Regions from separate parts of the Homo sapiens genome. Here all the other regions are linked to region 4. Evidence: fine-mapped expression QTL. A gene starts in region 4. Each other region holds a variant in brackets. All regions are shown on one strand. Distances are from middle to middle.

Region 1 (4,069 bases), 640 kb after region 4:
TAGGAAACTCGGTAAAATAATTGTTTATACAGTCGGCCCTCCATCTCTGTGGGTTCCACATCCATGGCTTCCACCAGCTTAAACCAAATTTATCTTCACAAGGCTCCCCCTAGAAGAGAGGAAATTCCACAGCTTTGATGTGATGTGAAATGTGATCTCAAAATGATCATTTTCTAATATTATCATTCCTTTCACATTTATTAGTTGACATTTCTATCAGATCTCTCTTTTTCCCTCTTTCTTTTGAGTATCACCATGGACTGTGGATTTTTTTAGGCAATTCATTGTGTTATCATCCATTACTATCATTGTTCTTTTATTCTATTTGCTGCTCCAGTTCTTCCAAGTTAGGGTAGCAGGAGCTCTTTCAAGCTGGTTCCTGTAATTTTTTGACATGTCTTGGTTGGTCTTTGAGCACTTCATTGCTTTCTGGTCCAACAAAATGTCCCAGGCTCACTTTTTCTCCATTCCAGACCTGGAATGAGGATTTCATCAAAGGATTCTTAGGGGGACTGACATTTATAAACCATGGCTCAGGTGCTAGTGCATTGCTACTGGGGGACATTCACGTTAAAATAAAATCAACTTAACGATAAATTGTAGTTACATGTTTTTTCTGAGATATATAAATAATCAACTTCTCTGATCTCAGAATTAGATAAATCAGGAATGAATAACCAAGGTCAATAATAAGAATTCTCAAAGAAGCCCCAAGAATTTTTTTTTTAAAGAAGTGTCTGAGGGGCCGGGCATGGTGGCTTACACCTGTAATCCTAGCACTCTGGGGGGCTGAGGTGGGCAGATCACAAAATCAGGAGCTGGAGACCAGCCCGGCCAACATGGCGGAACCCCATTTCTACTAAAAATACAAAACCCCATTTCTACTAAAAATACAAAAATTAGCCGGGCATGGTGGCAGATGCCTGTAATCCCAGCTACTCAGGAGGCTGAGGCAGGAGAATTGCTTGAACCTGGGAGGCGGAGGTTGCAGTGAGCCGAGATTGTGCCATTGCCCTCCAGCCTGGGTGGCAAGAGCAAGACTTCATCTCAAAAAAAATAAAAAATAAAAAATAAAAGAAGTGTCTGAGGGACACTTTCTTAGGGCTGCTGTAACAAAAAGCCACAAATTGGGTGGCTTAAAATAACAGAATTTTATTATCTCACAGTTCTGGAGGCTAGAGTCCAAAATCAAGGTGTTAGCACCCTCTAAAACCTGCAGTGGAGAATCCTTCCTAGCCCCTTCTAGTTTCTGGTGTTTGCTGGCAATGCTTGGCATTCTCTGACTTGGAAATGCATCACTCTAATCTCTGCTGCCATTGTCACATGGCTGTCTTCTTCCTGTGTGTCTGTGTCCCTGTGCTTCTCCTCTCTTATGAGGATACCAGTCATATTATATTAAGGACTCAGCCTATTCCATTATGAACTCATTGTAAAGCATGATTACACCTGCACAGACCGTATTTCCAATAATGTCACTTTCACAGGTACTGGGGTCAGGATTTCAACATATTTCTTTAGGGGATAAAATCCAACCCATAATAGACACCATAATTCAGGAGTTAGACATTCGAGAAGAGTTTAACTGGAGTATGGAAACATGAATTTTGTAGAAAGTCTGTCCTTTAAATCCTGACAAATGCTCTCCTTATAATTCCAAATTGGATGAAAAAAAGTGTCATACATAAGAAATATTTACACTACTTATTGTAATCAGTTTTCTATACTGGTTAGATAAGGATAAAAGAGAAATAGAAGAGGTATGGAAGACACTGGGAGACATATTGAAAGGACAGCAGGAGATAAGAGATTTAGGGATGACTGAGAGAGGGAATAGAGGGGAATTTAGAAGAAGAAAACGGGGAGCAGGATGCCTGTCTGAAGAACAGAAAGATCATTATCTGTCACCCATTCAGCTAGATTCAAACTGTATGACCTCACGCTCCATTCTGGCTCTTTACCTAATACTACATTTTTGACTTGTACCTCTTTGATAATAAGGCTGAATATTATTTTGTTTTGCTCTGTGGCACAAATGGATGGGGACTGAGTGATGTGCATACCTTTTGGTGTGATTACTCCAGGCGAGGGGTATCTGAGGGCTGAGGGTCTGTGAGTAAGACAGGAATGGAGTAATGGGGACAGATTTGAGCTGGGTGAGGCCACTGTCTAGGTCA[T/C]TAAGTCAAAGGGGTTCTCCTGAAACCGGAGGTGGGAGTGGCTTGAGGCACCAGTCCAAAGGCCAGTTGCCAAATTTGGTGATTATGGGGGAAGCAGAGCTTGTAGCCAGAGATGGATAAATAGCCCATAAATAACAGTATGGCAAGAGGATGGGCAGGTGTGTAGCTCCCTGTGGTCAGGAAAGGGGTATGCCCAGGACAGACAGACATGGGGAAGGCTCAACTGTGTGTCTTCCTTTGGGACCTCTCATCTGCCAAGCCCTGAAGCTGATGGAGTGGTGCCTCTTGGATGTGCTAGTGTGAAAGTCTTAGCTAGTGTAGGCCACTGCCTCCCCTGTCTCTTTCATCCCAGCCCATGTGCCTGAACCCAAGAGCCTCACTCTGACTGGGGTAACTGCTTGTTTCCTGGGTTACAGCATCCAGATCTCTCAGGGAAACTCAATAAACAATTATTACTGTGCACCAGGCACTGTTTGGGGGCACTGAAGATATATGGGGAACAAGACAGACAAGGGCTGTGTTCTCATGGAGCTGACATCCTAGTATACTTTGCTTTTGAAGCCTGAAGTGGAGGCCCACACTGGCACATTGAGGTCAGTTTACAAGAGTGCATTTAGTTTTGTTGTTGCTTTTGTAAAAGTTTTTTTAGGTGAAAGTTTTTGATAGATAATGCTTAAAATAATAGCTGCAGACTAGTCTCAGATACAGTTCTTAGCTTTTATGACATATTACCATAGATAAAATAATAGTTATAATAACATATATATATAATTTTATTTTGGTAAGAACTTTTAACGTGAGATCTATCCTCTTAACACATGTTTAAGAAATGTGTAACGCATTATTGTTGGTTATAGGTACAATGTAGTATAGCAGATCTCCAGAGCTTATTCATCTTACTTAACTGAACTTTTTGCCTATTGATTAATACATCCCCATTTTCCCTTCCCTACAGCCCCTGGTAACTACCATTCTAGTCTTTTATCTAACAAATTTGACTATTTTAGATTATCTCATCTAAGTGGGATCCTGCAATATTTTTCTTTCTGTGTCTGGCTTATTTCACTTAGCATAATGACAAAGTTCATCCGGTTGTCACACATTGCGGGATTCTTCTCTTTTTTGAAGCTGAATAGTATCACATTGCTCATATATACCACATTTTCTTTATCCACTCATCTGTTGATGAACATTAAGGTGGTTTGGTTGTTGGCTGTTGTGACTAGTGCTGTAATGAACATAAGAGTGCTAATATGTCTTTGAGATTCTGATCTCATTTTTTTCAGATATATACCCAGAAATGGATTGCTGGATCATCTGGTAATTCTATTTCTAGATTTTTGAGAAACCTCCATACTGTTTTCCATAGTGGCTGCACCATTTTATTTATTTATTTAGAGATGAGTTCTTGCTATATTGCCCAGGCTAGCCTCGAACTCCTGGGCTCAAGGGATCCTACCACCTCAGCAGTGGCTACATCATTTTTCATTTTCATGAACAGTGTTCAAGGATTCCAATTTCTCCACACCCTTGCCAACAGTTGTCTTTTTTTTTTTTTTAATAATGGCCATTCTGATAGGTGTGATGTGATACCTCATTGTGGTTTTGATTGGCATTTCCTTGATTATTTTGTGACCTAGACACTGGCCTCACCCCAGCTCAAATCTGGCCCCCATTACTCTACTCATGGTCTTACTCATGCACCCCAGCCCTCAGTGACAATGAGCATTTTTTCATATGCCTGTTGGTCATTTGTATATCTTCTTTGGAGAACTGTCTATTCAAGTTCTTAGCCTATTTTTAAATTGCATAATTACTTTTTGTGTTATTGAGTTGTAGGGGTTCCTTATATATTTTGAAGATTAACCCCTTATCAGTAATATTGCTTGCAAATG
Region 2 (4,069 bases), 110 kb before region 4:
AGACACTTGAAACTGTTCATCACACTAATAATAAATGTCTCTTTAGGATTCTTTTGACTGCAAATAACAGAAGGCACTACTCAAAGTGGCTTAAATGATAAGGAAATAATATCTGTCATAACTGAAAGCCCAAAGATTGGGCAAGTTCCAGGTAAGGTTTCATCTGCTATTCTACAATGTCATCGAGGATCCAGGTTCCTGCCATTTCTCCATCCTGCTCTCCGCAGCATCACCTTCATCCTAAGGCTAAGTCCCTCTGTCAATTACAAAATGGCTGCAGCAGTCCCAAGCATCACACAGACATGGCAACATCCAGCAAAAGAAAAGGACCATCTCTTTCTGTGTCTCTTTTTAGGGAGGAGGAAACTTATCCACAACTTCCCAGCCAGACTTGCTCTCAGATTTCACTGGCCAGAATTTGGTCACAAACTATTCCCAAATCAATCTCTGGTAAGAGAATCTTAAACTAGAAGTTCTCAGAGTATGGTTCACGAATTCCTGGGGAACCCTACCCCCCTTTAGGCAGTCTTCAAAAGGCTAAAATTATTTTCATGATAATATCAACATATTATTTGCCTTAAAAAAAAAAAACACTGTAGTGCCATTTGCACCAATGGTGCACAGGCAATGTGGATAAAAGCATTAGCACCTTTGCCTAAATCAAAACAGTGGCATCAAACTATACAGAAGATCACTGTCTTCTTCACCAACTATGGACTCACAGAAAAAAAAAAAAGGCAGTTTCACGTAAGCATTTCCTTGATGAAGCAATAAAAATTGTTTTCACAGAGCATCATTTTAACTTTGGTATTTTCTCAAAAATAAATGAAGTAAGACTGCCAAGAAAACAACTGACACCATTTGTTGCCTTTGATAAAATTTAAGCTTTTAAGCAAAAATTAGAATTCTGGAAAACCTGTGTTCACCACTATAAGCCTAACAGCTTTCTAATTCTTAAACACTGTTCAGATGAGAACAAGATATTTTTGGCACTATAAAATGAAATGTGTCAACATTTGGAAGACCTATACAACTCAATGAGCCAGTATTTTCCAGATGACCAACATAAGATGATACAAAATCAAGCACGGGCTAAAGATCCAGTCAAAGTATAATACAAGACAGACCAATGGATTTTAATGTAGCAGAATATGAAAAATTCACTGACAAGGCTTCAAATTGTAATATTGCAATTAACCTTTAAGATACTACCACTTACTGGGATTTGGTGTAGTAGTAAAGTAGAATACCCATATTCATCTGAAGAGACAAAGCACTCCTCCCCTTTCTAACCACTTATAAAATATATCTGTGTGAGATCAGATTTCTTCACATATATCAACCAGAACAACATATCACAACAGACTTAATGCAGAAACAGATATAAGAATCCAGTCATCTCTTAGGTGAGACATTGAGATTTGCAAAAAATGTAAAACAATGCCATTCTTCTAATATTTTTCTTTTGGAAAATATTTTTTATAAAAATATGCCATAATAACATACAATGGGTTTATTAGTCTTATTTTTAAATCACTTAATAATGCAGTTTTTACAGGTGTTGTGATAAAAAAGATTTAATAAATATTTAAACAATTAATTTTTTCTTAGGTTACATTTCAAATGTAGTAAATATCCATAGCTACAAGCCACATAAACAAATGTTCTTTGGAGCCTTTATAATTTTTTAGTGTCTAGAGGTCCTGAGACCAAAAAGCTGGAGACTCGCTGCCTTAGATTAATTTTCTGGGTGATATGGATAGCGGAAAGCCCATCACACAGAAAACAGTAAAATAATCTTCTGTCATTTTGGCGAAGGTAAAAACACTGTGATAAATGGTGTGCAGGAACAGGCATTCTGGCAAACTGAGGGGGCACTGAACTGAGAGACCTTTCCTGAGGGGGCTTTGGTAATACATATGAAAATTTTAAAGAAAAAATTAGAAAGAAAATTTCGTTTCTAAAAATATATCCTATGGATATAATCAGAAGAATATATTAAGGATTTGTCATAGCATTATTTGTATATTACACTGAAAAACTACAATACAAATATTAATTTTTAGAAGACTGACTAAATTATTGTACATGCATAGAAAGGAAAATTATGTAGCTGCTTAAAAATGTTGCTAAAGCCAGGCACAGTGGCTCATCCCTGTAATTCCAGCCCTTTGAGAGGCCAAGGTGGGCGGATCACCTGAGGCTGGGAGTTTGAGACCAGCCTGACCAACGTGGAGAAACCCCATTTCTACTAAAAATACGAAATTAGCTGGGTGTGGTGGTACATGCCTGTAATCCCAGCTACTCGAGAGGCTGAGGCAGGAGAATTGCTTGAACCCGGGAGGCGGAGGATGCGGTGAGCTGAGATC[G/A]CACCACTGCACTCCAGCCTGGGCAACAAGAGCGAAACTCCGTCTCAAAAAAAAAAAAAAACATCTTGCTAAAGGCTGGCCCCAGTAGCTCACACCTGTAATCCCAGGACTTTGGGAGGCCAAGACAGGCAGATCATTTGAGGCCAGGAGTTAAAGACCAGACTGGGAAACATAGTGAGACCCCCATCTCTACAAAAAATTAAAAAATTAGCTGGGCATGGTGGTGTGTACCTGTGGTCCCAGCTTCTTGGGTGGCTGAGGCAGGAGGATGACTGGAATCTGGGAGGTTGAAACTGCAGTGAGCCATAATTGCACCACTGCACTCCAGCCTAGGTGACAGAGTGAGGCTCTGTTTCTGAAAAAAAAAAAAAAGGTTACTAAAACCCTAAATTTATTGGTATGTGATATGGTTTGGCTGTGTCTCCACCCAAATCTTATCTTGAATTGTAGCTCTCATAATTCCCACATGTTGCGGGAGGCATCTGGTGGGAGATAAATGAATCATGGGGGCGGTTTCTCCCATACTATTCTCGTGGTAGTGAATAAGTCTCACGAGATCTGATGGTTTTATAAGGGGAAACCCCTTTCACTTGGCTCACATTCTCTCTCTTGCCTGCTGCCATGTAAACTGTGCCTTTTGCCTTCTGCCATGATTGTGAGGCCTCCCCAGCCACATGAAACTGTGAGTCCATTAAACCTCTTTTTCTTTATAAATTACCCAGTCTGGGGTATGTCTTTATCAGCAGGATGAAAATGAACTAACATGGTATGAAAAGATGTCCATGATTTATTAGGTAGAAAAAAAAAGTCAGGTACAAGATAGTATTTATAGTACGGTCTCATCTTAAAAAATTAATGTCTATATACCAAGAAACATGCATATGCATAGGGAAAGTCTAGTAGAATTTATAGCAGTTGTCACTGATTGAAAGGCTCACAGATCTTCCTTGCATTTTCTTCTTAATATATCTCGAAATCTTTTTTTTTTTTTTTTTTTTTTTGACAGAGTCTCACTCTGTTGCCCAGGCTGGAGTGCAGTGGCGCGATCTTGGCTCACTGCAACCTCTGCCACCCGGGTTCAAGCAATTCTCTGCCTCAGCCTCCCAAGTAGCTGGGATTATAGGCCCCTGTCACCATGCCTGGCTAATTTTTGTATTTTTAGTACAGGTGGGGTTTCACCATGTTGGCCAGGCTGGTCTTGAACTCCTGACCTTGTGATCCACCCGCCTTGGCCTCCCAAAGTGCTGGGATTACAGGCATTAGCTACCACGCCTGGCCTAAAATATTCTTTTTTCTATGTAAACCCAAATTACCTTTATAATTAGAAAATATAAAAATATTTTAAAATCACTAAATATACAAATTCTATATAATACTCATGAGTAGAGGATCCACTCTAGGGAATAAAAGATGGTATAATAGGCAGTAGGTGACAGCAACACTAGAATGCTGGATTCTGGACCCAAATAGCCAAGGGTAAATGTCCAGAGAAGAGTTGCTTAAAAGACCTCTAATTGTCAGACTGGGTAAGGCAGATGATTATGGATGCTGATTAAGGTGGAGCAAAGAACCAGGAAGTAGAAAGAAATTATTAGAAAAGGAAAAGGGTAACAGGAGAATGTGGGAAACCAACAGCCCATGCTAGAATGCTGAATTCCAGTTATCTAGAAACCTCCTATTCATCAACTATGGCAGGCACT
Region 3 (4,069 bases), 110 kb after region 4:
GAGGCAGGAGAATTGCTTGAACTGGCGAGGCAGATGTTGAACCCAAGAGGCGGAGGTTGAAGTGAGCTGAGGTTGCGCCATTAAACTCCAGCCTGGATGACAGAATGAGAATCAGAAGGAAGGAAGGAAGGAAGAAAGGAAGGAAGGAAGGAAGGTTGGTCTTCAGAAAAAGTATGGGCTGCAGATCCTACCGTGGCTTGTGTCTCTTTTTCCTGGGTGTGTCCTCAACTTCAGCAAAATAAACCTCTAAGCTGATTGAGACCTGTCTCAGATACTTTTTGGTTTATACCATCAATAAATAGTTATAAATATTTTCCCCATTAACATCTAGTTTTGGGTGTTGAGGCAAGTTTTCCAGTAAAATTAACACTGGAAGAAGTGTTAGAGTAAAATGTTATAATTCTTTAGATGATTCTATCTTGTTTTGTATCCAAACCTTGAATCTCAATATTATTAAAAGTGAATTTTCTGGCTGGGCATGGTAGCTCATGCCTATAATCCCAGCACTTTGGGAGGCCAAGGTGGGAAGATTGCTTAAAGCCAGGGGTTCAAGACCAACCTGGGCAACACAGCAAGACCACATCTCCAATAAAAATTAAAAATATTATCTGGGTGTGATGGTGCACACCTGTAGTCCTAGCTACTCAGGAGGCTGATGTGGGAGGATCTCTTGAGCCTAGGAGACTGAGGCTGCAATGAGCTGTGATTGCACCACTGCACTACATACAGCCCAGGTGACAGAGTGAGATTGTCTCAAAAAAAAGTGAATTTTCTTAATATCATGATAACAAAATAACAAATATGCTTTTCACTCCAGCAAACACCCAACACCCTGACCAATTTAATATAATTGGTAACCATAATGTCTGAAGAACTTCAGTGACTTTCCCTCTTCCTTACATCTCATTGTACATTTACCAAGCTCTCTTTGGGCCCTCAAAAATAAAATTCTTGAGATTCATTTCATCTGTGAGATCCTGTCACAGTTACATTAAATGACAAGAGATTCATTTGTTTGTTTTTGGAATCTGAATGGTCTCCAAATTTCTTTAGGGCTCATTCAAACTTGAAAAGTAGTCCTAGGCCACAAACATAGAACCCAGAAGAAATCTGGGACTGAAAAGGGCAAATTGCATCATGACCTCAGATTTTTCCAAATTGAAATTATTTGCATGAATATTATCTGATACACAAACTTCACATCCATTCAATTCTTATTCCCTGACTACCCAGCCTCACCCCAGCTGTTCACCATAGTCTGCACCTGCAGGCCCAACACCCTTTAAGGACCCCTCAGATTTCAGAATAAGGAATTGCATATGGTGTGACTCAAGGAAATCTCCACTAGCAAGTAAAGTTTATAAGTGATTCCTTCCTTCCTTCCTTCCTTTTCTTTGCCTTTTCCTCTCTTCCACCCTTCTCCCTCCTCTTCCTTCCTCTCTCTCTTTCTCTTTCTTTCCCCCTTCCTCCTTCCCTCTCCCTCTCTGTCCCCTTTGTCCTTTCCCTCCTGTCTCCTTTTGGAATGATTTTAGCATTCTAGGTCTCCATGAGAACTTCAGGCATTGGCTTCCTTAATCTGAAATCTTGCCAACATGTACTAATTTCTGGATTTCCAATAACCTAGTCTCCCCAAATTAGGAAACTGACTCCAGTCAAAATCAATAAATACCATTGACTTGATCTGGTTTTGATTTGGTTCTTGTCACTTATAATCCTGCATTTCTTAACTAATACAGGAACACTCTCTCATGTTTCTTGCTAATCACCATTTTTCCAAGGCTTGGTTCAGTTTGTAATATCCCTCAAATCATTTTAGCACCTCCTGATTTACAACCTGGGTTCCTAAATACTTTTGAATTTTTTAA[G/A]TCACCCATAAAAGAAGCCACCACTCAGCTGAGTACAGTGGTGTGCACCTGTAGTCCCTCCCAGCTACTTGGAAGGCTAAGGCAGGAGGACCCCTTGAGGCCAAAAGTTTGAGGCTACAGTTCTTATGATCATATCTTTGAATAGCCATTGCATTTCTGTATTCCAGCCTAGGCAAGATAGCAAAATCTTCTCTAAAATAAAAAAAAAGAATCCCCTCACTTCTAATGAATGGGCAGTGAGTAGGTCATGCATAGGATTGTGCTCTTCTTTCTTACCACTGCTTATTGGGCCAGAAACCTGATCTGACAGAGGCCAGTCAACTAGTCAATCCACAGATATTAATTAGGATATTGCACTGAGACCATGGTGCAGTTGGAACCAAGAGCAAGATGAAAAAGCAGAGGATAAGTAGTTAGCAGAAAAAGAATGCAGCAGAGGTGGAGAAAAAAATAGTTTGTTCCAAGAACTTTATACTTATTATTTCTCTCTTGGAGATGTCAATGCTATGGATATACCTCAACAGAAACAACAAACTTTCAAAGGCACTGTAGATTTCCATAAACAGTGTATAGCAATTTATCCTATGATTTACATAAGAAAATGTTCAAAGGTTTAGCTACAAGTTTTTTTTTGCCATGTGTTATCTATAATAGAAAAATATTAAATATGTTAAATCTAAGAAAAATTCCCTAAGTAAGTTATGCTGCATCCATCTAATGGAATTTTTTTTTTTTTTTTTTTTGAAGACACAGTCTTCCTCTGTCACTCAGGCTGGCGTGCAGTGGTGCAATCTCAGCTCACTGCAACCTCCACCTCCCAAGTTTAAGCAATTCTCATGTCTCAGCCTCTGGAGTAGCTGGAATTACAGGTACACACCACCCCGCCCAGCTAATTTTTTGTATTTTTAGTAGAGATGGCATTTCGCTATGTTGGCCAGGCTGGTCTCAAACTCCTGGCTTCAAGTGATCCGCCTGCCTCAGCCCTCCCAAAGTTCTAGGATTGCATGCATGAGCCACCATGTCTAGCCCCATCTAATGGAATATTAAACTCGCATTTTAAAAATATTCTATATAGGCCAGGCATGGTGGCCTATACCTGTAATTCCCGCAGTTTGGGAAGCTGAGGCAGGTGGATCACCTGAGGTCAGGAGTTTGAGACTAACCTGACCACCAAGGTAAAACCTCATCTCTACTAAAAATACAAAATTAGCTAGGCGTGGTGGTGCATGCCTGTAATCCCAGCTACTTGTGAGGCTGAGGAAGGACAATCACTTGAACCTAGGGGGCGGAGCTTGCAGTGAGCCGAGATCATGCTATTGCACTCCAGCCTGGTCAACAAGAGCAAAACTCTGTCTCAAAAAAAATATTCCATATATATATAATTGTTATCATGGAGTGATCTCTAAGCTACACTATTAACTAAAAAGAGCTTGCTATAAGCAATATGCATATAAAATACCATTTAAATAAAAAAAGTGTTTGTGTTTGTAGAGAAAGACTTCAAAGCATTGTTACTAAAACACACTTATTGCTTCTGGGCCAAAAGAAATGTGAATAAATAACTTTTACTTTTTTATTCACGTTTTTCTTAGTTGCTTGAATTATCTACATGATTATGTGTGAACTTTATAAGGATTTTAAAAACCACAATAATATGTTCTGTTATTTAGTTTTTAAAAATCTCTGGATTTTAGATCATTATTATTCTGTGGTCCTTTTTTTTTTTTTTTTTTTGAGACAGAGTCTCACTTTGTCGCCAAGCTACAGTGCAGTGGCACAATCTCCGTTCACTGCAAACTCTGCCTCCCTGGTTCAAGCAATTCTCCTGCCTCAGCCTCCCGAGTAGCTGGGATTACAGGCACACACCACCACACCCAGCTAATTTTTGTATTTTTAGTAGAGACAGGGTTTCACCGTGTTGGCCAGGATAGTCTTAATCTCCTGACCTCGTGATCTGCCCACCTCAGCCTCCCAGTGTTGTTTGTTTTTTATTATATAAATTTAAGTGTATAATATGATATTTTGATATACACATACATAGTAAAATAATTACTACAAGTAAGCAATTTAACATATCCATCATCTCATTTAGTTACTTTTGTGGTTGGGGGAGGATCACCTAAATCTACTGTCTTCGAAAAATGTTAGTATACTATATCAATATGGTTTGGCTCTGTATTCCCACCAAAATCTCATCTCCAATT
Region 4 (4,069 bases):
ATAATAGCATTAGATAATGCTGACATTGTTTTTGTCCAGTGGAGAAGGGTGAGGATAATGTTGGAAAGAGGGCAGGGAGCAAGCTTCACTTCATCAAGGAGGGGCTTTGGTTCAAATTGGTTTGGGTGGGCGGGCACTTTGAAAATCCATTTGTCACACTAAACGGCAAGTCCAGGTCCAGGAGGTTCCTGTCTTCCCTCTCTCAAGAGCAAACTGCAAGTAGTTTCATTGCAGGATAAGGCCAAGCCCACCGCTGCCCATGCTGTTTTTGTTTTGTTTCCAGACAGAGTCTAGCTGTCACCAGGCTGCAGTGCAGTGGTGCGATCATACCTCTCCTGAGCTCAAGTGATTCTCTTGCCTCCACCTCCCAAAGCCCTGGGATTACAGCTGTGAGACACCTCATGGGGACCCGGTTTACTGGGTTTTTTTTGTTTTTTGTTTTTTGTTTTTTTTTGAGACAGAGTCTCACTTTGTCACCCAAGCTGAAGTGCAGTGGTGCAACCTCAGCTCACTGCAGCCTCGACCTTCTGGGCTCAAGTGATCCTCCTTCCTCAGTCCCCCAAGTAGCTGGGGCTACAGGTGCATGCATTTGTATTTTCAGTAGAGACAGGGTTTCACCTTGTTGCCCAGGCTGTTCTCAAACTCCTGGACTCAAGTGATCTGCCCGCCTTAGCCTCCCAAAGTGCTAAGATTACAGGTGTGAGGCACTGCGCCTGGCCTTTACTGTTAACTTAAAACAAAAAATTATAAATTTGAAAAAAGAGGAGACTTTATTTCTTATAAAAGGTTATAGCCTGCAAGGAGGCCATTCCATAGGCTGATAAACATAGCCTCTGGCCTAAGACCAGAGACAGGCACTTGGAAGGCAGAGGGGTTGGGGTAGGAGCTTTATGCTGAACAGTTTGGCCAAACATACATACGTAACAGGTTACAGGAGGAGCTATGAATATTAATGGAGGTGGTCCTTACACATGCATATTGAACAAACATGCATGTAACATGTTCTCTTTGGGGTGGAGACTTAACATTTAATTGTATTACTTCAAATACATTTAAATGTATTACTTCAAACCTACACTTCAAAAGGTCTTTTCAGGACGTGAATGCATACAAGTGCACAATCCCTGTACACTGGCCAGAACCGGTCCATGGTCGGTCTTCTTATCATGAAAAAGTTCCTGAAATCAGCCCAGTGAAAGCTGTAGTTCTGGCTGGTGCAACAGGGGTTCAGCTGGTCAGCATCTGTGAACTGATTAAGTTGTAATTGTTTTAATATTGCTTATCTCAAGCCAGTGCTTGTTTAGCCTCTAGAGGAAAAGAAAACCTTTGTGGCAGTTAGACCATAGTTTATTTCTTAAGTGTAGGAGTGTGTGACTTAGGTCCTTTTTATAATTTGATGTCTTATTGCTACAAAGAGTCTGTTCTGTCCGCCTTATGATTTCTATTTTAAACATTAATGCTAGTCAGCTGTTGAGTCTAAATTCCAAAATGGAGGGGGTAGACTTCCCTTCCGGCTGTAGCTAGAAACTCAGCTTTAAGGTTTTTCTGGGGTCTGCTTGGCCAAGGAGGTCCATTCAGTCAGTGAGGGGCTTAGGATTTTATTTTTAGTTTACACCACCTTACAGGTTCCTCCTTAACACCCTTTGATGTCAGAGACAGCCAATTCTCCAGCACTGTGGCTAAGGAGGCTTCGTTAGTAGTTAAAAGCACACACATAACCCTACCCAACGGATCCCTCTCTTCTCTTAACCAAGAGGGCGCACCACTGCCCTACTCAACCTCCCCACAAATAAGGACGAGACACGGGAAGTGTTAAAAGCAAGTGGTGAGTATAAAATCCTCGGAATTTTCTCTTTGAGCAACTAACTAGGTCTGTTACTGAAGCCCTCTGCGAGCTTGGATGCTGGACGAGGGAGAGGGTGAGGCCACCAGGCAATGAGCGCCCTCGGCGGCCGCGTGATCCCGGGGGTGGGGCCCATTTCTGAGTTGGGGCCAGCTCCCCACCCCCAAGAGGCCCCACATTCCGGGCCAGCAGCCCAGAAAGTCCCTCCCCGCAGGCGGAGACAGCCCCAAGAAGTCGACGCCCCGGTCCCGCCGCCCGGCCACTACCCAGAGGGCTGCCGCCGCCTCTCCAAGTTCTTGTGGCCCCCGCGGTGCGGAGTATGGGGCGCTGATGGCCATGGAGGGCTACTGGCGCTTCCTGGCGCTGCTGGGGTCGGCACTGCTCGTCGGCTTCCTGTCGGTGATCTTCGCCCTCGTCTGGGTCCTCCACTACCGAGAGGGGCTTGGCTGGGATGGGAGCGCACTAGAGTTTAACTGGCACCCAGTGCTCATGGTCACCGGCTTCGTCTTCATCCAGGGCATCGGTACTGGCACCTCCTGGGGGGGTGCGGGGAGGAAAGCGGGGAGAACGGCGGGGGCAGAGGGTCCTCCGTGAAGCCCCTTCCAGCTGAGGAAGTGCTGGAGGATCGCGGGGCCCGGAGGAGTGCGGTGAGGAGCGCGCGGGAAGCCAAGTCGGCTGGGCGGGAGGGAGGCTGGCTGGCTCTGGGGCGGGACAGAGCTGCGGTTCAGGAGGATCGCCGCGAGCGCGGGGCCGGGGGTGCGCGGTGGAGACGCGCTGCTGGGGGCGGCGGAGCGGGGCCGGCCCCACTTGGTTAACTCTTTGCGGCGACTGGCTAGGACGCACTGGAGGGGCCTCCAAGACCCAGAAACTTGAGCCCGGGCGCGATGCCGGAGCGCCGCGCAGTCGGGCCGCTGCAGCCCACGCGCCCCGGAAAGTCGCCCCTGTGGACCGAGCCTGCGCGATCGGGGGCGCGGAAACACTTTCGCCTCAGCCTTTTGCTGAACTTGCTTCCAGGCTGCAGATGAGGAGGGGAAGGCAGCGGGGAAAAGATTGCCGGAGCGAGAATTTGCCCGTATTTGTAACATCCTCGGCCCTGGGTAAAGGGGCTGGCCAAGGGGGGCGAGTGAAGCATCCGCCCTGGGTTCCTCTCCTCCTAGAGTGTTAAACTCAGTCGAGTCCGGGAAGCTGCCAGGACTTCCAAGTGTGTTTCGCCGCCCTGCCCAGTCATTGGACGGTCTTGAGCCCGACTTGTTTATGTGGCAGAAGAGTGGCGAAAGTTCCCCCGCGGGGCTTCCTATTGGGCACTGGCCCAGCACTCCGGGTGGGAGATGCCCGGAGAGGGCCCGCGGCTGCCTGGCACCGAGGGATGCCTCTGCTCGGGATGCCCCCGGCGCAAGCTGCGTCCGTGTTTGGCCCGCGGCGAGCCAGCCCCGGGCCTGCATTCTCTGGGCTGAGGCTGGCGCGGGGGAGGGGCTCAGCAGTCGCTGGCAATGTTTGTTGTCATTGTGTAGTGCCTCTCAATGTCCTGACTGCTTCCTTCGGTTTGCCGTGTAGCTGGAGGAACCTCTAGCTTTTGGCGCAAACACCATTTATTTGTAACCACTTCCCCAAAGGCACGGCCTTCAGAAAGTAGTTAGAGAAAGGCAGCAAGGGGTGGAGTGGTGTTATGTCGCAGAAAATAATCGAGAGGAGTAGCAAGGGTTTGGAAAGATATGCCCACTGGCCGAAATCTCTAGCTTTGCCTGCGGGCAGGCTGCCTTTTCTTCACCAAATATTTAACTCCCCACAAACGAGTGTGCAAAAGAGTGCTGACCTCATTCCTAAAGAAAAGTGATTTTGGCTTTTGTTTTTGTTGGTTGTTTTAAACTTGTACTGCAGCTTTGGCAAGTGTGGCCAGCATTCTCCCACTCTGGAATGTAGTGGAAGGTGTTACTAACCCTCAGCATTCAAAGGCTTCCCTGGTGTGAGATCGGCATCAGGGTGTGAGATCGGCATCAGGGTGTGAGCACCACTGGGCACCTAAGGCATTTCGTTGCGTAACTCTCAGTTATTTTGCCACTATGCTTATAAGAAAAAAACATACTCAAGTTCCAAAGTAACTGTCAGAAGCACTCTTTCCTTCGTGGTGGAGCCCTTAAGTTTGGCCCCGAGCTGTCTACACCTTGTTTGCTCAAAGAGTAGAGCCAGTCTCCTCTTCTACCCAACTCTTCAGAGCAGCTTCTAATA
Region 5 (4,069 bases), 190 kb after region 4:
AATAATGCATAAAATGTCAAGAGTAAGGAATAACTGCTAAGGACAACATTGAGAATGTTTACTGTCAAGCATTCCTGAACTTGCATCTTCCTTGTAAAATTACATTTCGTGTTTGTTTTAGGATCCTGCATACATGTTGGGACTTGCTTTTCAAAAGTTCAGTAAGATTTCAGCTTTCTTTCAAAGATCATATTGGGAAAAGTATTACTACTTATTCCTCTTTGTCTCTCTCACACACACACACACACACACACACAAAATAGTGAGTATTAAATGTACTTTTTGACTTCTGAAATGAAATTAAACATAGGTAGTCAAAATCCACAGCTGATTAAGAATGCTTATTTTGGGCCAGGAAGTTGCATGTCCTCACCAAGAAAATCTCTTAACACACCTTTTAATAAGACATAAGCTGTTAGAAGTTTTAAGCTTTTTATGCCTGAGTCCCTCTAGTTGAAGTTACAAACCAGTAATAAATATCTAAAAGACAGGGCAAGAAAAAAAAAGCAAGGTGGCTGGATGATCTGTAAACTCAATACTTCAATCAGCTCTTGAATAATCAGGTTATCATTAACAATTAAAAGGCACATAAAGCTTGCCAGCTTGAATTTGAGAAGTGCTTTCCAAATAGAACCAAAATCACAAATCTAAGCTATACTATCTTTGGAGGAAAATGACATAACTCTTTCATTTAAGGAAAATCAAAATTTTCTTTTTAGAAATAATGTTATTACCTTATAAAATAGTATGCATTACAGAATAAAGACAATTTGTCTAGTGTAAATTCATTTTTATAGGGTTAAAATTTTTTTTCATATTTTGTGCTTCTATATTTTTATACAAATATGTCATTATTCCTTTATTTTTTATTTTTTTTGCAGACAGGGTCTCTGTCACCCAGACTGGAGGGCAGTGGCGCAATCTTGGCTCACTGCAACCTCTGCCTCCTGGGCTCAAACGATCCTCCCACATCAGCCTCCCGAGTAGCTGGGACTGCAGGCACGCACCATCATGCCTGGCTAATTTTTGTATTTTTTATAGAGACAGGGTTTTGCCATATTGCCCAGGCTGGACTCGAATTCCCAGACTCAAGTGATCCACCCACCTTGGCCTCCGAACGTGCTGGGATTATAGGCATGAGCCACTGCACCCAGCCACTATTCCTTTAGACAATTAATAATCAACTGGCATTTTTAAGTGAAAGCGTTTTTTTTTCCCTTCTACAACATTACCATAGTAAAAATGTTTCCCAAGATTAAAAATTACTATATTTATTAAATGTCTTTATTTGATATTATACATTATTTTTATGTAGATACTATACTGTGTACATTATGACTCATCGTTCCTGATTTTGAATAGTAGATTATTTTAATTCAGTGTCAGCAAGTTTGCTTTCAAAAGTACTTTGACACTTAAGTTTTTTAAATTAATGTGAATTAAAACATGTCCCCATGAGTTTTATGGACAACCCAGAGATTATTAGAGACCTTTTAGAATATTGTAAATTAATACAGGGAGTAATAATGGTAAGAAAAATATTTATTCATGTATAGAACAAATATTAAGTTACCAACTTTATTAAAATACTATGGTTTACCACAGAAGATAAAACATTCATGGTCCTTGCTTTCATAGAATTTACATTGTAGTGATTACATCATTAATTTAAAGATACTGTTGACTTTATTGGAAAGCCCTAAGGGTAGTGTGCTATGTTTAGTGTGAAGCATAGTTTTTTTAATGATAAATTGTAAAACACAAAAACAAATAGTTAATATTTTTTAAAGTATTTGTTCTTGTTAGATAATGAATACAAAATTGGTTTCTTGTGAGTTTAACGGAGAGAAAAATCCTCTTTTTGAGTGAGGTGACCTTACATCTTTCTTTTTTTCTTTGAGATGGCATTTCCTTCTTGTTGCCCAGGCTGGAGTGCAGTGGCACGATCTTGGCTCACTGCAACCTCCACCTCCCACGTTCAAGCGATTCTCCTGCCTCAGCCTCCCAAGTAACTGGGATTACAAGCATGCACAACCGCGCCCAGCTAATTTTGTATTTTTAGTAAAGACAGGGTTTCACCATGTTGGCCAGGCTGGTCTCGAACTCCTGACCTCAGGTGATCCACCCACCTCAGCCTCCCAAAGTGCTGGGGTAGCAGGCTTGAGCCACCGCACCCAGCCACATCTTTTTAACCTTAATATGTACGTTGTCTCCTTTGAGAGCACAGACTCACTTGGAAACATTAATTTTCAAGAGGGCTGAGTATATTCATTTTTAT[GTATA/G]TATACACACACACACACACACACACACACACACACACACACACACAGAGTAATAGAAAATGATGAATTCTACTAAATCATATCCAGCTTTCATAGAGGTAATTAATATTGTGATGGTGATATTGGCAGTGAAATAATGCATTTCTAAATATGTGACATTTAAAAAGAGTGCCCAGGTCTCAGAATGAAACCTAATGAACTCATATTGAGCAAACACGATGTTAATGTAAGAATAAAGACAATTAGAAGAAATATAATAGGAAAATACATGAAGACATGTGAGATGTGTGCATGCACCTGTACGTGCAACTTCAGTTGGCTAAGATGGTCTAAGATTAATACACTCAGGGAGTAGGAATAGATAAGACATTATAAAATATGCTGTCTAAACATGTTTGAATCACTCTAAGTGCCAAGAATTTCTTTTGGGACTGGTGGTAATTTATGAATAAATATAAAAGGTCGTGAGAAATAATCTCTCTCTAACTTTGCAGATTAGGAAGCTGCATTACATTTGTTATCTCAAAAATTTAGGAACAATTATTCAGTGGGGTAATCCAGGCCTCTTGTTCCTTTTTTCCTTTTTTTTTTTTTTCTTTTTTGAGTCAGAGTCTTGCTCTGTTGTCCGGGCTGGGGTGCAATGGCGTGATCTCGGCTCACTTCAATCTCTGCCTCCTGGGTTCAAGCAACTCTCCTGCCTCAGTCTCCCCAGTAGCTGGGATTGCAGGTGTGTGTCACCATACCCAGCTACTTTTTTTTTTTTTAATGCTTTTAAGTTCTAGGGTACATGTGCACAATGTGCAGGTTTGTTACATATGTATACTTGTGCCATGTTGGTGTGCTGCACTCATTAACTCATCATTTACATTAGGTATGTCTCCTAATGCTATCCCTCCCCCCTCCCCTCACCCCACGACAGGCCCCGGTATGTGATGTTCTCCTTCCTATGTCCAAGTGTTCTCATTGTTCAATTCCCACCTGTGAGTGAGAACATGCGGTGTTTGGTTTTTTGTCCTTGTGATAGTTTGCTGAGAATGATGGTTTCCAGCTACTTTTTGATTTTTAGTAGAGATGGGGTTTCATCGCGTTGGCCAGGCTGGTCTCGAACTCCTGACCTCAAGTGATCTGCCCACCTCGGCCTCCCAAAGTGCCAGGATGACCGGTGTGAGCCACCGTGCCTGGCCCATTTTTCCATTTTTGATCAGTTTACTTCTCAAGCTTTGTACTTGGAATTGTACTCTATGTGCCTGAAGATGCCCCTAATAAATGTAATAATGTACAGGTATGTCCAGTGCATTTTCAGTACTGGCTGTATTTTGAGGTACAGTGTTACTTGATTTTAGACTAAAATGACATCCTCAACAAGGAATTTTATGTCATTGATAACAGAGCTCTTACATAATGTAAATGACAGAACATTCCTTGGAGACCATCTCATAGAACTTTTGATTTAACAAAGCCTAAGCTTGTTGCTATTCATTGCTTAGTACAAAGTAGATCTTCACTGTGGCTGCTTCTTACATTGCATACACATAACCTTGTTTAAATTCCAAGATCTTTCTTTATATTTTTTAAATGAAGGATTTCTCTAGATTAATTCATTACTATTTTTCTTGATAAATTATATAGGCAGGTAGAGAAACCATTTGTTGTATTAAAACATTGTAGCAACTAAAACTAGTTATAAATTATAATGTCTTACATAAGTGAAAAATATATTTGACAAAAATGGTAATACTAAATGTATTGTGCTTAACTTTATTTAGTGGGGACTATGAGCATTATAC
Region 6 (4,069 bases), 46 kb after region 4:
CACTCTTTCCCATCAAAAGATAGAACCCTATTCTCCTCTCCTTAAACATGGGCCAGGCTTAGTGACTCACTTGTAAAGAATCGAAGACAAGACTGGTGCAGTGGCTCGTGTCTGTAATCCCAGCGCTTTGGGAGGCCAAGTTTGAAGCCAGGAGTTCAAGACAAGCTTGGCCAACATAGCAAGACCCCATCTCTACTAATAAAATAAAAATTAACCAGGCATGGTGGCACACACCTGTAGTCCCAGCTACTCAGGAGGCTTAGGTGGGAAGATCGCTTGAGCCCAGGAATTCAAGACTGCACTGAGCTATGATCTGCCACTTGCACTCTAGCCTATGCAACAGAGCAAGACCCCATCTCTAAAACAAACAAACAAAACAGGAAGGCAGCAGACAATACTATGCGACTTCAGGGACTAGGTTTCCTAGCTCGCTGTCTCTCTCTCTCTCTCTCTCTCTCTCTCTCTCGTGTGCAATGCTTGCTCTGGGAACCCAACCACCTTGTCATTTGATGGGGAAATCAAACACTACATGTGTATTAATCCATTTTCACATGCTATAAATAAATATTTGAGAGTGGGTAATTTATAAAGGAAAGAGTTTTAATTGACTCACAATTCACACGACTGGGGAGGCCTCAGGAAACTTGCAATCATGGCAGAAGGGGAAGCAAACGCGTCCTTCCTCACATGGCAGCAGGAGAGAGAAGTGCCAAGCAAAGTGGAGAAAAGCCCCTTATAAAACCATCAGATCTCATGAGAACTCACTCACTATCATGAGAACAGCATGGGGGGAAACCAACCCCATGAGCCAATCACCTCCCTCCCTCAACATATGGGGATTACAGGTCCCTCCCTCCACACATAGGGATTACAATTTGACATGAGGTTTGGATGGGGACAAAGAGCCAAACCCGATCAACATGGAAAAGTCACGTGTTGATATTTGGACAACAGTTCTGCATGAGCTCCCAGCTAACAGCCAACATCAGCCAACCGGACACGTGAATGAGTGAGTTTTGAGTTTATTCTAGCCCCCAATCTTTGAACCACCCCAGCTGACACTGAGTTGAGCAGAGATAAACCGTCCCCTCTAAGTTCTTTCCAAATTTTTTTTTTTTGTTTTTGGAGACGAAGTCTTGCTCTGTCGCCCAAGCTGGAGTGCAGTGGCACAATCTCACCACACTGCAACCTCTGCCTCCTGGGTTCAATCTTCACCGGGAAGCCATTTCATTTGCCGTATGAAGAAGCTAGAAAGGAGAAACTTTTATTTTCAAACCCAGCAATTCCTGGCCCCTCTATATTTCACAGTTCTCTTTCACTTCTCTCTTTCTCTTGAAGTTTACTATACTCAGTGAGAAAAACCAGGCAGCTTCTTCAACACTTTTCCCAAAAATCTCCTTAGATAGACGGTTCAGTTAACTTGGTATATTTTCTATTCTCCATGTTACCACAGGTGACAGTGTTGCTAAACTTTTTGCTGCTATATGACAGCTCTCAGTAACATTTTCCTCGCTTTCCCATAAGCCCTAACCAATAACTTCTTCAAGAACCATGAGGTTTCCACTAACAGTCTCTTGAAGACTCTCAAATTCTGCCTGCCACCCAGTCCTGAAGCCATTGCCACACGTTAGCAGTTTTTGCTGTGCTACCAAACTCTGTTCCAGTTATCTATTGCTGCATAACAAACCACCCCAAAATTTAATAAATTAAAACAGTAACAACATCTATTTATTCATGAATCTACAATTTGAGGGCTGGGTGAGGTGGCTTTCGCCTATAATCCCAGCACTTTGGGAGGCTGAGGTGGGTGGATCACCTGAGATCAGGAGTTCGAGACCAGCCTGGCCAACATGGAGAAACCCTGTTCCTACTAACAAAAATTAGCCAGGTGTGGTGGTGTGCACCTGTAGTACCAGCTACTCGGGAGGCTGAGGTAGGAGAATCGCTTGAACCCGGGAGGTGGAGGTTGCAATGAGAGGAGGTAGCACCACTGCACTCCAGCCTAGGTGACAGAATGAGACCCTGTCTCGGGAAAAAAAAAAATAAAGAAAAATATGGTTCAAAAATAAAGTGAGTTTATTTTTGGGCATGACTATAAGACTCTTTGCTGAGACCTCAGAAAGTCCATAAGGTGTTGTTTCATAGGCCCTTTCAAGCAGACAAAAGGCCTAGCAACTTTTTTGTTTGTTTGTTTGTTCCTTCTTTATTTGTTTTCAACACACCATTGCTGGCTTGAAAGGCCTACAGATCTCAAGGGAATTATTGGACCGCAGCTTTAGGAGAAGGGAGAGAAGGGCTAAAGGAGATTTATTGGTATGGGTTTTGCCTAATGGAGTTAGTTATAAATTGATTAATAAGAAGACTATATATACATATTTTAAAAGAATTAGAATTAGCTTGGAGTGAAAGGGACATTCAGGCCTTTGGATTCCAGGCTTCTAAGAGCAGGAAGCAATCTAAAAAGACTGTCACTCAGCTGCAAACATGGGCTACTTTTTTTTTTTC[T/C]TTTTTTTGTTTTTTTGAGATGGAGTTTCGCTCTTGTTGCCCAGGCTGGAGTGGCATGGTGTGATCTCGGCACACCTGCAACCTCCACCTCCCAGGTTCAAGCGAGATTCTCCTACCTCAGCCTCCCGAGTAGCTGGGACTACAGGTACGCGCCACCACACCTGGCTAATTTTGTATTTTTAGCAGAGACAGGGTTTCTCCATGTTGGTTATGCTGGTCTGGAACTCCAGACCCCAGGTGATCTGCCCACCTAGGCCTCCCAAAGTGCTGGGATTACAGATGTGAGCCATTGCACCCAGCCCAACATGGGCTACTTTTAATGGAAAAGAAAGAATGGCTCAGAAGGTGGGACCGAGAGTGCAGTGGGTGGAGCCAAAAGCAAGGTGGACAACTTCCAGGTGTAGGACCAAGCCCTATCAAGGAACTGGCAACATACGCTCAGCTGGATTTCAGAATCGCTGTGCGCCAGTGGCTGCTGTGTGCCTCCCATTTCCCCCCTTTTTGAACAGAAGCGTCTGCAGCGATTATCCTGTGCTTGCTCCACTATTGTACAATATATTGGGTGCAGTGAGCAGAGAGGCAGCTTGTCCTTTGATTCCCAAGTCTTCAGGTGGAGAGGAACTGCACTGCAGGGGCTCTACTCCAGGAACAGCACCCAAGGAGCCTCAGCCACTCCTGCACCTGATTTATATGTCAAGATCATGGACCTTGAGCCCCAGCCTGATGCTACAGGAGATACAATGTTTAAGGGGTTTAGGGCAGGGGAGTGAGTCTACTTTGCATGTAGGGGAAAATGTAGGTAATGTATGTCCAACGGGCAAATTGTGATGATTTTAAAATATGTCCACAAATTCTATGATATTCTTCTCAGCAGAAGGTAGAGCCTAATTCCCCTTCCCTTGAATCGTGGCTGGCCTCAGCAACTAACTTTTAACCCATAAAATATGGCAGAAGTGAATCTGTAAGATTTCTCCGAGGAGGTCACCAAAGGGGACACAGCTTTTGCCTTCTTCTCTTCTCTCTGGGGATGTTTACCTTCGGAACCCAGCCAGCACTGTGTGAAAAAGCCAAGGAGCCCCATGGAAAGGTCAAGTGGAGGGGCTGTGGCCATAGGCCCTGCTGAGCTCCCAGCACCAACTAGCTGACCTGTGAGATTTCAGATGATTCCAGCCACCAGCCTCAAATCACCCCTGCTGATGCCAAGAGAAGCAAAGACAAACTGTCCTTCTCAAGCCCTGCCCAAATTACAAATTAATGAGCAAAATAAATGCAGTCATTATGTTAAGGAACAAAGTTTAGAGTGATTTGTTATGCAGCAACAGGTAACCAGATATTGATATGCAAATGCCTACTCAGAATATCCACATTATCGGTCAGGTACAGTGGCTGATACCTATAATCCCAGCACTTCAGGAAACTGAGATGGGATCGTTTGAGACCAAGACCAGCCTCAGCAACACAGTGAGATCCCATCTCTATAAAAATTAAAAAATTAGCAGGGTGCAGTGGCACATACCTGTGGTTCCAGCCACTTGGGAGGTTGAGGTGGGAGGATTGCTGAGCC
Region 7 (4,069 bases), 130 kb before region 4:
AGATAATATAAATACATAATAAAATTATATAAATGCCTTCTTACTTAAATTGCAAGCTTCTAGAGGCAGCACCAGGCTGCTCATGAATTGTTTGACTGATTACATAAAAATGGTATTTGTCTGACATAAATCTAATTGGATGGAAGTTACTTCATATTTTCCAGGGTGGATCCTAATTAAGATCCTTGCAGTGCGAAGGAAGTGATAGAAGAATGTGACAATGTACAGGTAGCTATCCAATTAAATTAACTACGATGATTAACAAATATGTGCTTTGTATTATTACTACCACGTTAGCCTAAGGTTTGCTGGTCATGGTTCAATTTTGTGGGAAAAGAAGGGCAGGGCCAGCCCCAAATAAAATTGTGGTAGAAAAAGTAGGTTTCTGCCACCAGAATGACCCAATCCCTTTATGTACCTTCTCTTAGCTCTCTTTTGGCATACTCTAATTTGAATACCAGTTTAACTCAGATAATTGCACAACAAAACTGTGTGAATAAGTAGTATTTTTATTTGAAACAACACAAAGAGGTACAGTTTAAAATATTCCATTCATCCAAAAGAAGGCAAGAAAGGAAGAACAGAGGAATGAAAAACAAATAGGACAAATAGAAAACAAATACCAAGATAGCATATGTAAACCCAACCATATCAATACTTACAATAAATATAAATGGGCTCCAATTAAAAAGCAGATTATTAACTTGGATTAAAAAAAGTAAGACCCAGCAATATACTGTTTATAAGGCAAGCACTTTAAATATAAAGAAACAAATAGATTAACGTAAAAAAAGGTATACTATGCAAACACTGCATAAGAAAGCTGGTGGGGCTATATTAATAGACAAAGTAGACTTCAATGAAAAGACTATTATAGAGATAAAGAGGGGCATTTAATAATGATAATAAGCCAATTCATCAAGACAACATAGCAGTCTTAACTATGCATGTACCTAATAACAAAGCTGTAAAATAAATAAAGCAAAAAGACAGAACTTTCTAAAAGGAGAACTTAACAAATTCACAGTAATACTTGGAGATTTTAACAACCCTTTTCCAGTAATAAATAGAAAAATAACCAGCGACAAGCTATCTAAAAATCAAAAAGGATAAAGAAGATTTGAACATTATTAACTTGACCTAGATGACATTTATAGAAAGAACATCATACAGCAATAGCAAGAATACACATTCTTTTCAAATGAACATGGAACATTCACCAAGGTAGACCATACGCTGGGCTATAAAACAAGTCTCAATAAATAGATAAATTTGGCTGGCCAGGCACAGTGGCTCATGCCTGTAATACCAGCACTTTGGGAGTCCGAGGCGGGCAGATCACCTGAGGTCAGGAGTTTGAGACCAGCCTGGCCAACATGGTGAAACCCCATCTCTACTAAAAATCCAAAAAAAAATTAGCTGGGTATGGTGGCGGGTGCCTATAATCAGCTGAGGCACAAGAATCACTTGAACCCAGGAGGCGGAGGTTGCAGTGAGCCGAGATTGTGCCACTGCACTCCAGCCTGGGTGACAGAGTGGGACTCTGTCTCAATGAATAAATAAATAAATAAATAAATAAATAAAAATAAATCCCAAAGTATTAAAATCATACAGAGTGTGCTTTTTGACTATAATAATATTAAATGTTAATATTTTGATGAATTAACTTGTATTAATAAATGTCCCTTCTTATCTCTGGTAACAGTCATTTTCTTGAGGTCTACTTTGTCTGATATTAATACAGCCCTACCAATTGTCTAATGTAATGTCATGTATGGCATGCTGTGTATCTTTTAAAAAAATTTTAGTCTATTTGTGTGCTTTTCTAATAGGCAGTGCTTTTCTAATAGGCAGCATATTGTCAATCCTTGCTTTTGTATCCAAATTCAAAATAATAATAAGATAGCTACAAAAATTTCCAAATGTTAAGGAATTAAGCAACACAGCTATAAATAACCTATGAGTAAAAGAACAAATCTGAAGAGAAATTAGAAAATATGTTGAACTGAATGATAACAAAATCTGAAAATATCAAAATGTATGGGATGCAACTAAAGCAGTGTATAGAGAGAAATTTATAGTTTTACATATTTTTATTACAAAAGAGAAAGATGTCAAATCAATAATCTCAGCTTCTATCTTTTTTTTTTTTTCTTTTTTGAGACAAGGTCTTGTTCTATCACCCAGACTAGAGTGCAATGGCACGATCATAGCTCATAGGCCTGCTTTGGCCTCCCAAGTAGCTGGTACTACAGGCATGTACCACCACACCTGGCTACTTTTTTTTTTTTTTTAAGAGAGGGTCTCCCTATGTTGCCCAGGCTAGTCTTGAACTCCTAGGCTCAAGGGATCCTCCCACCTCAGCCTCCCAAAGTGCTGGGATTACAGGCATCAGCCATCTTGCCTGGCCT[C/T]AGCTTCTATCTTCACAAGCTAGAAAAATAAGAATAAATTAGACCCAAAGTAAGTAGAAAGAAGGAAATAATAAAAAATAAAAACAGAAAGCAATGAAATAGAAAACAGGGCCAGGCATGGTAGTTCACGTCTGTAATCTCAGAGCTTTGGGAGGGAGGTCAAGGTGGGCAGATGGCTTGAGGCCAAGACTTTGAGACTAGCCTAGGCAAAATAGTGAGACCCTGTCTCTAAAAAAAAAAAAAAAAAAAAAAAAAAACAACATCAACAACAACAAAAAACTTCAAACAAACAAAATTAGCCAGTGCCTGTAGTCCCAGCTACTTGGGAGGCCAACGAGGGAGGATCACTTGAGTTCAGGAGTTCAAGGCTGCAGTGAACTATGATCATGCTATTGCACTGCATTCTGGGCGACAGAGCAAAACCCTGCCTCAAAAAAAAAAAAAAAAAAAAAAGAGAGAGAGAGAGGGAAGGAGGGAAAATGAGCAAAGCAGGGAAAAATCAAAGTCAAAAGTTAGTTCTTTGGAAAGATTAATAAAACTGATAAACTTCTGGCAAGACTGATATCAAACATGTGTTTCACAAAACACAAACTTCCAATAATAGGAATGAAAAATGAGATATCACCACAGACCTTACAGACATTGAAAAGCTAATACTGGGATATTATGGACAATTTTATTGCATTCATTAGATGGGACAAAGTCCTTGAAAACCATAACTTACCAATAATAACAAAATAACACAAGAGAAAATCTGAATAGCCCTAAATTTATTAATTACATTTGTAATTAAAATCAAAACAAACAGCACACCTAATAGGATGGCTGGTATTTAAAAACAGCAACAACAACCCAGAATATAACAAGTATTGGTGAGGATGTGGAGAAATTAGGAAATTGGAGCCCTTATTCATTGCTATTGGAACATAAAATGATACAGCAGCTATGAAAAAACATTATGGTGAATCCTCAGAAATTAAACATACAATTACCATATGATTCAGCAATTCTACTTCTGGGTATATACCCAAAAGAAGTGAAAGCAGAGACCAAAGAGATATTTGTACACCCATATTCATAGCAACATCATTCACAATAGACAAAAGGTAGAAGCAACCCACGTGTCCATTGAAGATAAATGGATAAACAAAATGTGATACATACATACATATATATGTACAATGGAACATTATCCAGCCTTAAAAAGAAAGGAAATTTTGACACATGGTACAACCATGGATGAATCTTAAAGATATTATGCTAAGTGAAATAAGCTAGTCATAAAAGGATAGATATTGTATGATTCCTCTTATATGAGGTTCCTAGAGTAGTCAAACCGATAGAGACAGGAAGTGGAGTGGTGTTTGGCAGAGGTTGGGGAAGGGGGAATGGGGAATTAAGTTTTTAATGGATAGGGGAGGGGCGAGAGGAAACGGGGAGACGTAGATCAAAGGATACAAAGTTGCAGATATGTAGGATGAACACGTCTACAGATCTAATGTACAATACGAGGACTACAGTTAATAATATTGTATTATATTTGGGACTTTTGCTGAAAGAGTAGATTTCAGGTACACTTGCCACACATACACACAAAGGTAACTATGTGAGAAGATACAATTGTTAATCTGCTTGCCTATGGCAACCACTTCACTGTG

What was found.
Region 1: its variant is fine-mapped to the expression of CYBRD1 in hippocampus (GTEx, PIP 0.95).
Region 2: its variant is fine-mapped to the expression of CYBRD1 in whole blood (TOPMed, PIP above 0.99).
Region 3: its variant is fine-mapped to the expression of CYBRD1 in whole blood (TOPMed, PIP above 0.99).
Region 5: its variant is fine-mapped to the expression of CYBRD1 in whole blood (INTERVAL, PIP above 0.99).
Region 6: its variant is fine-mapped to the expression of CYBRD1 in whole blood (INTERVAL, PIP 0.96).
Region 7: its variant is fine-mapped to the expression of CYBRD1 in whole blood (TOPMed, PIP 0.99).

The regions. Positions count from the first base shown.
Region 1 is chr2:172,156,444-172,160,512 of GRCh38, forward strand. No RefSeq gene overlaps it. Among named protein-coding and RNA genes, the nearest start is that of DLX2-DT, 55 kb to the left of the region's middle. The variant T/C (reference allele first, on the strand shown) is at 2,175.
Region 2 is chr2:171,412,003-171,416,071 of GRCh38, forward strand. All of the region lies in intron 1 of METTL8 (methyltransferase 8, tRNA N3-cytidine), which reads right to left. Among named protein-coding and RNA genes, the nearest start is that of METTL8, 20 kb to the right of the region's middle. RefSeq lists an enhancer at 4,045-4,069. The variant G/A (reference allele first, on the strand shown) is at 2,370.
Region 3 is chr2:171,632,363-171,636,431 of GRCh38, forward strand. No RefSeq gene overlaps it. Among named protein-coding and RNA genes, the nearest start is that of DYNC1I2, 53 kb to the right of the region's middle. The variant G/A (reference allele first, on the strand shown) is at 1,866.
Region 4 is chr2:171,520,373-171,524,441 of GRCh38, forward strand. It overlaps CYBRD1 (cytochrome b reductase 1), which reads left to right and starts at 2,102. Exons shown (of 4, transcript NM_024843.4): 1 at 2,102-2,366. The coding sequence starts at 2,174. RefSeq lists an enhancer at 2,191-2,300 and silencers at 2,411-2,520, 2,671-2,740.
Region 5 is chr2:171,707,837-171,711,905 of GRCh38, forward strand. The region is part of intron 5 of DYNC1I2 (dynein cytoplasmic 1 intermediate chain 2); the gene reads left to right. Among named protein-coding and RNA genes, the nearest start is that of DYNC1I2, 22 kb to the left of the region's middle. The variant GTATA/G (reference allele first, on the strand shown) is at 2,279.
Region 6 is chr2:171,566,828-171,570,896 of GRCh38, forward strand. No RefSeq gene overlaps it. Among named protein-coding and RNA genes, the nearest start is that of CYBRD1, 46 kb to the left of the region's middle. RefSeq lists a silencer at 1,080-1,251. The variant T/C (reference allele first, on the strand shown) is at 2,506.
Region 7 is chr2:171,394,712-171,398,780 of GRCh38, forward strand. The region is part of intron 1 of METTL8 (methyltransferase 8, tRNA N3-cytidine); the gene reads right to left. Among named protein-coding and RNA genes, the nearest start is that of METTL8, 37 kb to the right of the region's middle. The variant C/T (reference allele first, on the strand shown) is at 2,412.